3 separate regions of the Homo sapiens genome follow, and regions 1 and 3 are each linked to region 2. The links come from fine-mapping of genetic effects on gene expression. A gene starts in region 2. Each other region holds a variant in brackets. All regions are shown on one strand. Distances are from middle to middle. Region 1 holds the start of LOC124901104. Region 2 holds the start of ARHGEF37 (Rho guanine nucleotide exchange factor 37). Region 3 overlaps ARHGEF37 (Rho guanine nucleotide exchange factor 37).

What was found. PIP is the estimated chance that this variant, and not a neighbour inherited with it, causes the effect.
Region 1: its variant is the best candidate, but not a certain one, in a credible set for the expression of ARHGEF37 in sigmoid colon (GTEx, PIP 0.79).
Region 3: its variant is the best candidate, but not a certain one, in a credible set for the expression of ARHGEF37 in cerebellum (GTEx, PIP 0.54).

Annotation. Positions count from the first base shown.
Region 1 is chr5:149,639,050-149,641,809 of GRCh38, forward strand. It overlaps LOC124901104, which reads right to left and starts at 2,432. Exons shown (of 3, transcript XR_007058990.1): 1 at 2,223-2,432; 2 at 1,950-2,099. The variant T/C (reference allele first, on the strand shown) is at 1,408.
Region 2 is chr5:149,580,341-149,583,100 of GRCh38, forward strand. ARHGEF37 (Rho guanine nucleotide exchange factor 37) reads left to right here and starts at 1,158. Exons shown (of 13, transcript NM_001001669.3): 1 at 1,158-1,284. RefSeq lists an enhancer at 819-948 and a silencer at 1,029-1,208.
Region 3 is chr5:149,625,890-149,628,649 of GRCh38, forward strand. ARHGEF37 (Rho guanine nucleotide exchange factor 37) reads left to right here. Exons shown (of 13, transcript NM_001001669.3): 11 at 1,187-1,382. Among named protein-coding and RNA genes, the nearest start is that of ARHGEF37, 46 kb to the left of the region's middle. The variant C/T (reference allele first, on the strand shown) is at 1,607.

The DNA.
Region 1 (2,760 bases), 59 kb after region 2:
CCCACTGGACAGCCCCTCCCTTGTGGTCCCACGTCCCATCAAACAGGCCTGGCTGTGCTTCCAGTTTCTGTCTGGTGACACCAGATCCTAGACACTAGGATCTTCCCCGCATCCCTCCAGTGGAGGGGTTGTAATGTCTTTTTGCTATTGTTCATCTCTGGGGTGCTTCTCAGATCTTTCACCTGTGTAACCTACTCCCCAGAATGAATTCCTTCTGTTCTTTTTAAAAATTTTTAGATGGAGTCTCGCTCTGTCACCCAGGCTGGAGTGCAGTGGCATGATCTCTGCTTACTGCAACCTTCAGCTCCTTCAGGTTCAAGCAATTCTCCTGCCTCGGGCTCCTGAGTAGCTGGGATTACAGGTGCCCGCCGCCATTCCTGGCTAATTTTTGTATTTTTAGTAGAGACAGGGTTTCACCATGTTGGCCGGGTTGGTCTCGAATTCCTGACCTCAGGAATTCCTGACCACCTAGGCCTCCCAAAGTGCAAAGATTACAGGTGTGAGCCACCGCGCTCAGCCCAAATTCCTTCTGTTCTAATGCATAGAGTAGTTTCTGCTTTCTGACTGGACAGCAAAATACCACTCAGAAGCCAGGGCTGCAGGGAGGGGCTGGGTCTTGGTGCTATGGGATCCCTGGCACCTCCCTGGTACCTGGTCCCTCAGGCAGCCCAGCCCTTGGGGAACAATGGAAATCATCTCTAGGTCTGTCTGCACCTTCCCTGGTTCAGGGGGCTGTCAGCCATTCCTACATGGAGCTCTTGGAATGTCTTCAGTCCCAGAAGAACTGAGCTGGTCATGCTCCAGTATCAGTGGCTGTGGTAGTCTGCTGAGCTGCCCCAGTCTTGGCTGGCTGAGACCATTACTGCCAGGCCCAGAGCAGACAAACACAGAGGAAATCCAAGGGCACTGTGTCAGTGCAGAGCCAGGGTTTGGGGAAGGGCCAGGCCCTACAGCCCTGGGGGAGGGGAGGAGGAAACACAATTTTCTAGCCATGATGCCTCAGCAGCATGTGTCTGGCCCCTACTCAGAAGGGGCAGTGAGCCCCAGGTTTGGGAAATGGGAAGTGGGATGGGGCTTCTGGCCAGGGCAGAAGCTGCTGGTCTTGGGGTCTCAGGGCTCCTGGGCACATCAGTAGAGCCTCTGGTGTGGGAATAGAGCAGCACGTTAATAGCAATAACTGCAGCATCTATTCACTACTCACAAGGCTGTTTGAGGTTAAACGAGGGAATCCACTTTACAGGACTAATTCAATGCCTGGCACATAGGAAGCTCTCAAGAGCTGCAAGCTAAAAGACCAAACACAAGTCTCAACAGCAGCCAGCTGCCATGGGCCTCACGCTGTTGGGCTGTCATGAGACTAGTGGTCTGGATGGAGCCCCAGGCCTCTCCCCTGGGGCAGGGCTGGAA[T/C]TGGGGACACAGATCCAGCTAGAAGAGGGCCGAGTCAGGTGAAGGATCACGGGAGTTGGGAGGGCATGGTGATTCTGGGGCACACTCCCCAGGGATGTGGGGGAGGCAGCAGGTGTCCATCAGGCAGTTGGAGCTGCCGTGGGACACGGGAATGGGCATCTCCTAGTGTCCAGGCAGGTCAGAGGTCAGAGCCAGGTCAGACTGTGGGCAGCAGGGTTTCAATCTTTGGTTGGGGTTCAAGCACTAAGCTCTGGGGAAGGAGAGATCAGGCCGATGAAAGATACAGAGATCATAGCAGGAGGCAGCATTGAGAACTGGGCACAGGGTTAGAGTATGACTGTCAGTGCAAGGGACTTTGTATTGGGCTCTGGTGGCTGCCCTAGAGCTGCTTAAAACCCTCCCATATGAGGACAGCATGGTTTTAGGGAGCCATGTGGGGCCAGACTTGGGAGAGTGTCTTGGGATGAAGAGGTGGGGTGGTAGCCAGAAGGCCAGACTTCCCATGCAAAATACCCTCGTTCAAATCCTGTCCCCACACTTACCAGCTGTGTGGCCGCCTTCAAACAAGTTGCTTCATCTCTCTGACGCCTCACTTTCCTCACTTTCCTCCTTGTGGGCAAACCAGGAAAGAGTCCTGCCGATGGGGTTGTTGGGATGTGGACACAGGATACATCACGGGAGACTTTGGCACTCTGTCAGGCACATAAAAGTGCTTAATAACAACTTGATCCTTGGCCACACAAGCCAGTTTTGATCCCTCCCCCGCCCTTCCCCGTATTTCTTCCAAGTGTTGCAGGCAGCGACCCCACACTCACACCCGCTGTGCCTTCAGCTTTCTCCCTAATGCCCATGGCTCTGACCCTTCACCGCCGGGAATTCTGAAAAATACCCCATGGCTGCCTGAGTTCTTTCAAAACTGAAAGCAAGTAGATGTCTTAAGAGGCCAAAGGTTGTTCCCCTGGGAACGTAACTGTAACCATGTCCTCAAATACTCTCTGGCGATCAGTCGGCCATCTTGAGTTACTGCAGGCTCCAGGCGCCTCCCCGGTCTGCTGATGGTGCGGTTGCAGCTGATTGGCCGGCGTGTGGGAGTGCACCTTCCCCCTACTTTTTTGTTTTTTAATTTTTTAATCATCTTTCTAAATGCTTTTATTTTCATTTTTCATCCTCCCTGCTCCCCGAAAAAGTCATGGGTCAGAACAGCAACCATAAAATACAAATGCAAACACAGACCAGGCACAGTGGTTCACACCTAAAGTCTCAGCACTTTGAGAGGCCAAGACGGGAGGATTGCTTGAGTCCAGGAGTTCGAGACCAGCCTGGGCAACATGGTGAAACCCCGTCTCTCCAAAA
Region 2 (2,760 bases):
GTGAGCCACCGCGCCCGGCACCCTTGGTTTTTCTCTTCTGCAAGCTATACCACCCCTCTCCCCTTCAGTTGCCCTCATCTGTCACATTCAAGAGGAGACACTTTTCTGGTTTTCATGTTTTTCTGAGTGTAGAGTGGTGGTTAAGCAGCCTGAACCCTCAGATAGTCTGAATTCGAATACTGGCACTGTCACTTAGTAGTTGTGTGTCATGGGCAAGTTATTTTCACCTCTGTAGCTTAAGTTTCTCTCTCTTGAAAATGAGGATAATAATAATGATACCTATCTCTTAGAGAAATTGTGAATGAGATAATTGAGACAGTACAAGTAAAACATTTAGTATAGCGCCTGGCCCTTAGTAAGCAATATGACTACTACCAGCAGTAATAATAAATAATAAGCCCTAAATTAAGCCCTAAAAATGAAAATAAGAATAAAAGAAGTGGCAGAATGAGAAAAGCTAATCTAGTCCATTCCTGACGCTACAAACAAGGTTTGGTTGCCCCGATATGAAACTTTACATGCGTTTCATAGCAACTATCACTTTCAATGGTGGGTTTAGTGTCTTGCACAGGAGCCCAATAAGGCCAGGACCTTGTCTATCGTGTTAACTGTTGTGTTCTCTGTGCCCAGAACAGTGTCTTGCTCCCAGTAGAGTGAAAGAATGGACCAACACCGTCATGTCATGGAAGCGACTGGCCGACTTGGCTAAGGTTGTGCAGGGCTCCCAGGAGAGCTGGGGCAAGAACCAAGGGCTCCTCGGCAGCCAACACTAAGAATTAAATTGAGGCCCAGCCCTACAGTTTGGTGATTCGGGCAGGAGCAAAGGTATCCAGTAATACCGGGGTCAGCATTCCCACCGGGTGGCCTAAATGCCGGCTCCTGTTTTCTGGATGACGAGCCCGCGGAGAAGGTGGCTTAATGAGAGGCCGCGGGAGGGTGGGTGCCGGCACGTCGCTAAACTCCGCCTGCAATCCTTCGGGTTGGCTGCCAGCCAGGGCACGGTTCCGAGCCGGCCGGGGCTGACTCCGGGAGCAGCGAACAGAAAACAACCTGGCTCCAGAAAGACAATTAACAAAGGCTGGAGACCAGCCACCCCCTCGCGGCGCACGCACGCAGGCAGCTGCGTGGGCATAGCCGCGCCCGCCAGCGCCCTCGGTGGGCACAGCCACCCGGAGCGGCGCGGGTGCCGGGAGCTGGGCGACGCGCCCCTCCTGCCCCGGCTGCGCTGTTGCCCGGGCGGCCGACCTCCGTGCGTGAGCGCCGGCAGGCACCTTGCGCGCGCGGGTGAGTCCGCTGGGCGTTTGGGGCCTGGTCAAGCAGGATGGGGCTGGAGAGGGGTGCAGGAAACAGCTGCTGGGAGGATCAGAAAAGGGAGGTGGGACAGAAAGGCAGGATGCGACGACCTCCCGGGTCCCAACTTGCTTGGTAGCTAGCTTTGTGTCTTGAGCCTTATGAGAATGTAAGCCACCTGGTCCATATGGCCTACCCTAGTCGTTTTACAGGTGGGAAACTGAGGCCCAGGGAGGTTAGCCGGCCTGGAAAAACATTATTATTCTTTGTTCCTGTTTCTCTCTGCCTTCTTCCGTGCAGGATTTCAGACAGCTTTTAGAAAGAATGCATACATTATAACAACGGAAAAATACAAACAATGGTAAAGAATCCTTGCCAAGCAAAATATAATTATGAATAGACAGTCAAGGCCAGGAAAAAAGAGAACAGAAATCCGTGATCCATAGGTGAGGTGACTTGGCTAAGGTCCCTCAGAAAAGTCGTGCCAAAGCTGGGACTAGAAGTCAGAACGTCCGGCTTCTGAACGCCAGAAACTTACAGTGGGGAAGCAGACAGCCTGCCCAGGCACTGGTTCTTAACCTTCTGGGGGTCCCTGACCCCTTAGAGATCTGTGTCCACTCCCAGCAGAAGGGTTCACACAAAGCCTTGTGCACAGTTTGAGATTTGACATGAATTCCTGCTGTAAGGAATGCCTGCAGGCTGCTACTCAGGCAGGGTGGTTTCAGAGCACTTTCTTTGCTCCTTTGAAGGGAGGCAGCTGGTGGAGGAGTACCTGCTGTGCGTCCAGACAGCCAGCTGTGTGATCCAGGAAGCATAGTTTAACCTTTTCAAGGCCTAGTTTTATGTGTAGACGGGGGATGAGAGTGTCTGCTTCATCCTCCAGGTTATTGTCAGACTTAAGAATGAACATAAAGGCTAGTGCTTGACATAATATATGCTCAATAAAAGTGCTGACGATTATAGGGTGACTATAGTTTACAATAATCTATTGTATATTTCAAAATAGCTAGAAGAGAATAATTTGAATGGTTCTAGCATAAAGACAAATATTTAAAGTGATGGATATCCCAAGTACACTGATTTGATCTTTATAAATATATTAAAGTATCACAGGTACCCTGAAACTATGTACATCTATTATGTACACAGTTTAAAATTTAATTTAATTAATTAAAAAAAAAAGTGATGACACACAAAATCATCAAAGCTGTGGGAATTAGGAAAGGGTGATGACCTGGAAGAAATTGGGCTGTATCTGAAATAAAATACAATTTAAAAAATTATAAACATGAAAAAATAAAGTCAGCCCTATTATGACTTACAGACCACACCACATACCTTCGTGATGGTATCCTAAATAAGGGTGCAGCAAGGTACTACCCTCAATATTTGACTCCAAGTCAAAAGCTGAAAGTAGAAACTACCAGATACTGTAACAAGGAGTGTTTACTGGGCTTCACTTGCCTCTTT
Region 3 (2,760 bases), 46 kb after region 2:
GGGGGCCCTCCCAGGGGTGACGCTGTTCTCTGCATAGGGAGGGCCGGTCAGCCTTGAGAAAGAAGGCCAGCATTTGTGACACCACTGGCTCTTATACTCACATGCATATCACTGTCCTAAAAGAAATGACCACAACACCACTGTTCTCAAAGAAAACTACCTCGTCTCTACATTCCTGTTTAAGGACCTGTTTAGAAACATTGGGATCTCCTGGTTCTAAATCCTGAGACGCCATCCCCTTTGGGGCAAGGATGTGGCAGAGTCTGTGGCCAAATGTTCCTGAAGGGCATCTCTGCCTGCCTCCCCACACCCAGCACCTCCCCACAAGGAGTAACCACATAGAGCATGGTGAACACACACACACACACACACACACACACACACACACACACACACACGCCTCTCTCAAGACATAGAGTAAATATATATTTAACATATTTAGTTTCTTATTGATTTTGCAAAAAGAGGACAAGCATCCCTGAGTCTCTCCTTGTTGATACTCTTCTGGAAGCAGTATCATGCAATGGAAAAACAGGAAATGCCAGGAGATTTTTGGATAAGCTGAAAGTGCCACCGAATCATTCTTTCCAGCTAGATGGCAATTTCGTCTAGGTAAAACTCTCTCCTGTATTTCTACTACACCATTCTCAAAGTTTTCCACAGTGCCCTGTAAATGGCAGGTGCTCCATAAATGCCTGTGGACTGAAAACTCATGGAATCAAAGGTTACATGCCCTCGTTCCTGCATATGTGAAATCCGCCATGTGCTGGCCCTGGCTGGCTATTTAAGAAACCAGATGAATAAGGTCTGGTGCCCACATGAAACTCACACTCTAATGGAATTGAAAGACCTGTCCAGGGCATTCTGCTGTGGGATAACTTACCCTGACGGTATGGGCAGAATTTAGGGCCCAATCCTAGGAGTTCAGTAACTGAGAGATTTCAGAACTTGAATTGGAATTTTAGAGAATCCCAGAAATTAGAAGTTTCTTCCAAAACGCCGTAGGCTGCTAAGAGCCAGCCATCTGCTAGTGAGGGCCCTGTTGCCCTGATCAGGGTGGGCCCTTCAGTGGCAGAGTTAGGATCAGGCCCAGTACTCCTGGCTGTCAAAATGTGAGCAAATGTTGGTGCCAGCTTTGACAGGTTTATTCAAGCACTTGTGTCTGTCTGTGCTCCTCCTCTCCCAGCCGCTCCTTCCAGGGTCTGAACGCCAGGTGCAGGCTCTCCTGAGCAGGTATGGCCCTGGGAAGCTGTACCAGGTGACAAGCAACATCAGTGGGACTGGGACTCTGGACCTGACTCTGCCTCGGGGCCAAATCGTGGCCATCCTTCAAAACAAGGACACCAAAGGCAACAGCGGCCGCTGGCTGGTGGACACCGGGGGTACGTGAGCCTTTGGGAGCCCTTCTTCTCCTTCGGGGAAAACCACCCCACAGAAGCCGGTGCAGAGACCCGGGCACTCTTGTGGGTCAAAGTCTGGCTGGGCATTCCAGGATGGGAGTAGGCACAGGTGACACACACAGGGCTCAGGGCACAGTCAGTTTAGAGTGACTCCGTGGGACATGAAAAGCCAACAAGAGGAATTGAGGCATTCGTTGCAGGGTCTA[C/T]CATGAAGCACCTATGGTGTGCTGGGCGCTGAGCATATAAGACAAGGCCCCTGCCTGGAGGGCCTTGCAGACCACTGAGGTCAACAGGGCTATATGGAGAGAACTCCAGGACCACCCTGAAAGATGGAGATGGGCACGGAGATAGAATGCCTGGACCCTGGCTACACCGCCAGAAGTCTGATGTGCAGAATGAGGGGAGCGATCATCCTGCCCACTCCATACTGGTCATGGCCTTGGGAAGTGCTGCTGAGGTCTGGGTGCCCCAGTGTAACTGGGCTGAAGGGAAGTGGCACCATGAATCCAGGTGATATGGCCCAGGAGAGCATCTTCCGAAGAGGGGTGTGTGACCCACAATATGAGGGGTGCCTGAGATTATTGTCAGGGGATCCACAGACAGTTTTTCCCCCTTCAGACAGTGTATTATAATTGTTACTTAAGCATTTTAATGTGTATTAGAAAAAATATAAGTAGTCCATAATTCCATGATTATAATCATATTATTGTATATAGTACAAGATGAAGTTTTAAAAAGTGAGTCAATTAAAAAATTAAGAAAGCGGTACAAATCAGACAGAAATCATGAAACAGCACTTCCATGACTTAAGGTGGGAACCACAGAACGGGTATTAAGCAAGGCCCCCGAGGCCAAGAGGACTGGATTTGGATTCCAGCTCCACCACTTTGCTGACTGTGTGATCTCAGGGAAGTCATGGAGCCAGTCTGAGCTCGGCTGGTTGAACGTAAAATGGAGAGGATAATATCACTGGCTGCCCTCAAGAGGTGATGTGAAGACTATGTAATGAAATGCTTGCTCTGTAGTTTGGCACACCCTCAGGAAGTGATAGCCATTCATAATGACAGCAATCAGAACAGCACTGGACTAGTTGCTACACATAAAGGAACTGGGCTCACATGGAGAGGAGAAAGGCAGTCTCCGCCTCCTAGGAAAGGCAGTCCTGGGGAGAGGAAGCAGCTCTTGCTCTGGGCAGACACCAGAGGGGCATGGGAGCTGGCGGCTCCATCAGATAAGCAGTTTTCATGCCAGTCCAGGGACAAACTTTTAGTCTCTATCATAGCTGATCAAAGGGAGTCGTCTGTCCGGTAGGGAATGAGCCCCCCATCACTGGGGTGTGTGAGCAGAAGCCAGAAACGGT